2 separate regions of the Homo sapiens genome follow, and region 2 is linked to region 1. The links come from fine-mapping of genetic effects on gene expression. Tissue or cell type: whole blood. Region 1 holds a variant in brackets; the other region holds the start of a gene. All regions are shown on one strand. Distances are from middle to middle.

What was found. PIP is the estimated chance that this variant, and not a neighbour inherited with it, causes the effect.
Region 2: SLC39A13 starts here. The variant in region 1 is fine-mapped to the expression of SLC39A13 in whole blood (TOPMed, PIP above 0.99).

What each region holds. Positions count from the first base shown.
Region 1 is chr11:47,897,894-47,900,575 of GRCh38, forward strand. No RefSeq gene overlaps it. Among named protein-coding and RNA genes, the nearest start is that of NUP160, 51 kb to the left of the region's middle. The variant G/T (reference allele first, on the strand shown) is at 1,548.
Region 2 is chr11:47,406,895-47,409,576 of GRCh38, forward strand. SLC39A13 (solute carrier family 39 member 13) reads left to right here and starts at 1,696. Exons shown (of 10, transcript NM_001128225.3): 1 at 1,696-1,768. It overlaps SLC39A13-AS1 (SLC39A13 antisense RNA 1), which reads right to left and starts at 2,388. Exons shown (of 4, transcript NR_182308.1): 1 at 2,058-2,388. RefSeq lists enhancers at 978-1,800, 2,089-2,682 and a silencer at 1,209-1,998.

The DNA of each region.
Region 1 (2,682 bases):
ATTATACACCATAACCAAGTGGGATTTATCCCAGGTATGCAAGACTAGTTCAACATTTGAATATTAATTAATATAATCTATCACATCAGTAATTGTGCCACTGCACTCCAGCCTGGGCAACAGAGCAAGACTCCGTCTCAAAAAAAAAAAAAAAAAAAAAAGAAAAAACTCTCAGCAAGCTAGGAATAAAGGGAAACTTCCTTAACTTAAATAAGAACATCTATAGGCCGGGCACAGTGGCTCATGCCTGTAATCCTAGCACTTTGGGAGGTTGAGGCGTAGGATTACTTGAGGTCAGGAGTTTGAGATCAGCCTGGCTAACATGGTGAAACCCTGTCTCTACTAAAAATACAAAAATTAGCCAGGCATGGTGGGGGGCAATTCCAGCTACTCGGGAGGCTGAGGTAGGAGACTTGCTTGAACCCTGGAGGCGGAGTTTGTAGTGAACCAAATGTGCCACTGCACTCCAGCCTGGGCAACAGAGTGAGACTCAATCTCAAAAATTAAATAAATAAATAAATAAATAAATAAATAAATAAATAAATAAGTAAATAAAAGAACATCTCTAAAAACCCCCCAACCAGCATCATACTGAGTGGTGAAAAACTTGAAACTTTCCTGCTAAGATCAGGAATGAGGCAAGGCTGTCCGCTCTCACCACTGTTTTTCAACATTGTACCAGAAGTCCTAGCTAATGCAACAAGACAAGAAGAGGAGATAAAAGCTATGCAGATTGGGAAGGAAGAAATATAAATGCCTTTGTTTGCAGATGACATGATTGTCTATGTAGAAAATCCAAAAGAAGCAACAACAGCAAAAACCTCCTGGAACTAATAAGTGATTACAGCAATGTTTCAGGATGCAAGGTTAAAAACAAAAGCCAATCACTTTCCTAAGTAGCAGCAATGAACAAGTAAATTTTTTTTTTTTTTTGAGACAGGGACTTGATCTGTCACTCAGCTGGAGTGCAGTGGCATGAATGTGGACCACTGCAACCTTTACCTCCTGGCTCAAGTCATCCTCCTGCCTCAGCCTCCTGAGTAGCTGGGTCTGTAGGCACATGCCACCATGCATGGCTAATGTTTTAATTTTTTGTAGAGATGGGGTCTCACCGTGTTGCTCAGACTGGTCTCAGACTCCTGGGCTCATGAACCACTGCCTGTAATCCCAGCCCTTTGGAAAGCTAAGGCAGGAGAATCACATTGTCACCTAGCCCACAAATGGAATTTGAAATTAAAAACACATTACCATTTACATTAGCATCTCAAAAATGAAATCCTTAGGTGTAAATCTAGCAAAGCATGTACAAGATCTACATGAGATCTGGGTGCAGTGCTTCATGCCTGTAATCCCAGCACTTTGGGAGGCTAAGGTGGGCGGATCACCTGAGGTCAGGAGTTCGAGACCAGCCTGGCCAACATGGAGGAACCCCATCTCTACTAAAAAATACAAAAACTAGCTGGGTGTGGTGGTAGGCACCTGTAATCCCAGCTACTTGGAGGCCGAGGCAGGAGAATCACTTGAACCTGGGAGGCAGAGGTTACAGT[G/T]AGCCGAGATCAAGCCACTGCACTCCAGTGTGGTGTGGGCCACAGAGCGAGATTCCATCTCAAAAAAAAAAAAAAAAAAGAAAGATCTACATGAGAAAAGCTACAGAACTCTGATGAAAGAAATCAAAGAAGTATGATAGGTAGATAGATATTCCATGTTCATAGATAGGAAAACTCTGCTGCAAGCCACACTGGTGCCCTAGGAACATACTTCATCCTTCAACTGAATAAGGCAGCACTGAATTCCCCAAATACACATCCCAAAGTCATAATCAAGGAAGTCAGGAAGAGTCTTTTGGTGGGCATGAGCATCATAGTCAGGTTCTCAGACACCAGACTGGTTTCCTCTGAGGGTTTGTTATCAGAATTCCTGCTCACAGGCCACTGTCCTGGCCAGGCTGCACCTTCCTCTCTTTGCATCCTGGCAGCAGCCACATCAGTGGGTGCAAGAGGCTCATGTGACCCCATGTAACCTGCCCCTTGGATGTGTCGGCCATCACAGGTCTCAGGTGCCTTTTGTCTTTCTAAAGCAGAACTGAAATTTCACCTGGGCAGTCCGCTTTAGAGACCACAGAACTTTCATTTCCTTTTTATTCTAGGGAGAAAGTACTGAACACTATTATCTCACCAAGAGAAAGTGGGTACTGGGTGAGTAGAGGCTGGGTGGGGCTTGGTTCACACCTGTGGTTCCTAACCCAGCAAATCACTGAAATCACCTAGAGGAACTTATTATGATGCAGACTCCTAGTCTCTGCCTCAGACCTGCTCTGGGATAGGCGTAGAGGGCAGGGGTCTGTAATTTTTTAAGTGCCCACCGAATGATTCTGATGACCCTGTAGACTTGGGAACCACTGGGGTAGAGAAATAAGGCCACTTGCTCCTTTCTGCTCAAGGGTATTCATGTTTTCGTGCTTCCTTATTTTTGATGACATTTCCGTCTCAATGCTAACTCCTATAATGTTCAAACATACCTTTATTATGTCATATGATATCATATACATTTCCATATTTATTTCCTTGACCAGTTGAGCTCCTCAAGTGTGAAAGGTGTTATTCACCTTTGTTTCCTGCACTCAGGGTTACCACATACAGTCGAGCAGGTTATTCACTGTACAAAGGAGCTTATCATGGAAGG
Region 2 (2,682 bases), 490 kb before region 1:
TCTTCCTTCCTAGGCCTCCCAAAGTGCTGGGATTACAGATGTGAGCCACCGGGCCTTAGGTATCCGATGGGAATTCCAGGCCAGGTGGGAGGAAAGGGTAGTGCATTGGCACCAAGTAACGTTTCTGGCTGGGTCTTGCCCATCCCCTTGTTGGGTGGCCAGGAGCGCTCAGCCTCCAGAGGCAGGAATGCTGACTGTGTTATTGTGAAATCATTTGCATATTGTGAAGTGCTTTGCATAAGATGGAGCGCTTTTGCATACAGGGAGGGGGGCATTTTAGAAGTCCTAGGGCAGGATCCCTGAGTAGCTTTTCTTTGCCAAGAAACTAACCCAGGGATTCCATTTTGGAACTCAGGGAGGGAACAGAACGTCCTGGCAGTTGTATGGGCCCGGTGGGGTGAGATGGACAGAAAGCTTCAGAAGACAAGCTGGGCCACCAGGGAGAAGTTGGCGGTCTAAGGAAGGCCAACAGTGCAACATGAAGTGGGACAGGCACCAGAGGCAGCCCTGAGAGCTGAGTGTGCTCTCAAGAGCCCCAGCAGAGGGGAAAGTGACAGAGTAAATGGTTGGAGCTGCCATGGGAGGCTGATGAGGGTCAGAGACTTAAGAGACCTGTACTCAGTCGCTATCTCTGCCCAAGTGAGTACCCACATGCCCCTTCCTGAATCTTCTCCTGTACTGGCTGATTTCCAGAGAAGAATACAAACTCGAAACGCCAAGCCAGACTCCCACTGCTGTTCAGGACCTAGACGTGAGAAGTGGTATCACATACTCTGGCTTCAGGACACCCAGGTTTGAATCCTGGCTCTGCCATCTGTGCCACTGTGTGACCCTGGGCTAACAGTACCCACCACAATGGGATAATATGAGGATTCAGTGAGATAGTGCGAGTAAAGTGAATAGCACATAGTAGGTGGTCAGTAAATTGCGGTTATAAGAACTGCTATCCAGTGTTTGCTGCCTTAGTCTAACCAAAGAGGTCAGGTCTAGCTTCCTCCAGGTGAGGGAAGCACAGAGCCCTCGCCTCCCAGGTTTGGAGTTCCCATCAGCAGGGTCCAGCCACCATGCATTGGACCCCAAAGGGTTACAAGCCCTGGAGACAGTGGCCTGAGGTTCCCAGTGAAAAACCAAAGCATAAAAATAATTCGATGAGTAAGAATAAAATTCCCTCTTCTGAGGTTCCCGGGGCCAGGCCCCTCCCTGCGGCAGGCACTTCCCCTTTCCCTTGCTCATGGAGGAGCCAGGCCGGGCTGACTCAGAGCAGGAGCGCACAGTAGTCCTCCCAGCCCGACCTGGGCGGCGTGGTCTGGCGGCCGGGCGCGCCCCCGTGCGGCCACGGGCAGACTGCGGCCCTGGACGGGAAGCGGCGGCCAGATCCGCAAGCCCCGCAGCCTGGTCGATCGCGGTCCCCGCAGAGCCGCCGCTTCCGTCCCTGCCCAGCCTGGCTGAGCGCGGTGCGTGTGGCTCTCTCACTTCCGACCGACCCTCCCCTCCGGCCCGCAGCCCTGCCCAAACGGAAGTGCGCCCTCTACCCGGGTCCCCCACCGCCGCGAGGCGGAAGCGCCCTCCCGCCGCCACTCCCCCCGACCCCGCGGCACGCGGCGCCTCGGGTTCCGGACAGGCCCCTTGTGACGTGGCCGCGCGCCGGGGGCGGCCCCGGGCCGGGGGCCGGGCGGCCGGGCGGCCGGGCGGGGCAGAGCCTGGGCGGGGCGCGGCACCGCAGCTGGATGGCTGGGGCCGCCCGGATCGCCGCCGCCGCCGCCGCACGGTGAGTGCCAGCAGGACCCTCGGGGCCCGCGCCCCGGGCGTGATGGACCCGGCCGATCCCTCGCCCCGTCCGACTGGTCCTCATCAGACCTGGGCCGGCTCCCAGGACCCGGGAGTCAGGCTCGCCCGCTTCGGCCTCCTCTCCCCCATCGCTCCGCGCCCCACGCCCCATCCCTCCCTCGCTGTCCTCTCCGCGTCCCACCCGCCTCTCTCTAGCTCTCTCACTCTCTACTTTCCTCTCCCCTTGGACTCTCCGTGTATTCCCTCCCGCTAGCCTGTGGTCCCCTCACCTCTGCGTGACCGCCTCGTCCTGGCCCAGTCTTGCCTGTGGTCCCCAGTGGAGCCCCGCTGGCTTCATCAGTGCCCCTGATTAGTTAAGGCCTGGAGGTCCTAGACATGGGCATCTCTGCCACCACCCAGAGGCAGCTGCTTTCTTCCCCTCCCATCTCCATCAGAAGGTGAGGAAACTGAGGCAGGGACATCACCAGCTCAAGGTCACAGCCAGCCTGAGGCAGAGCAGACCACATTTAAACCTCATGCCCGAGTTTCCAGATGGAACTTCTCGCTTGGTTGACTCACGTCCACATCCTGTGATCGGCCGGCTGGGCACATTCCTGCTGCAGGGAGCCCCAGGCCTTCCCTGGCACAGGCAGGGCCTCTGCGCCTCCTCATGCCGGGTACATCCACCTGCACTTTCAGGCTTATCTCGTCCTCACAGCTGAGGCAGGTGATATTGATCCCTGTCCTGCAGATGAGGGCACTGAGGCTCAGAGGGGGGGCTTCAGAGATTTGCCCAGAGTTAGACAGCTCAAAGTGCAGCATAGAATTCACCGTGGGGGCTCTAAAGCCTGCGCTATACAAGAGAGAGGCATCCCCTGGCTAAAGGCTCCTTCCTCATCAGCCCCATCTCCTGTT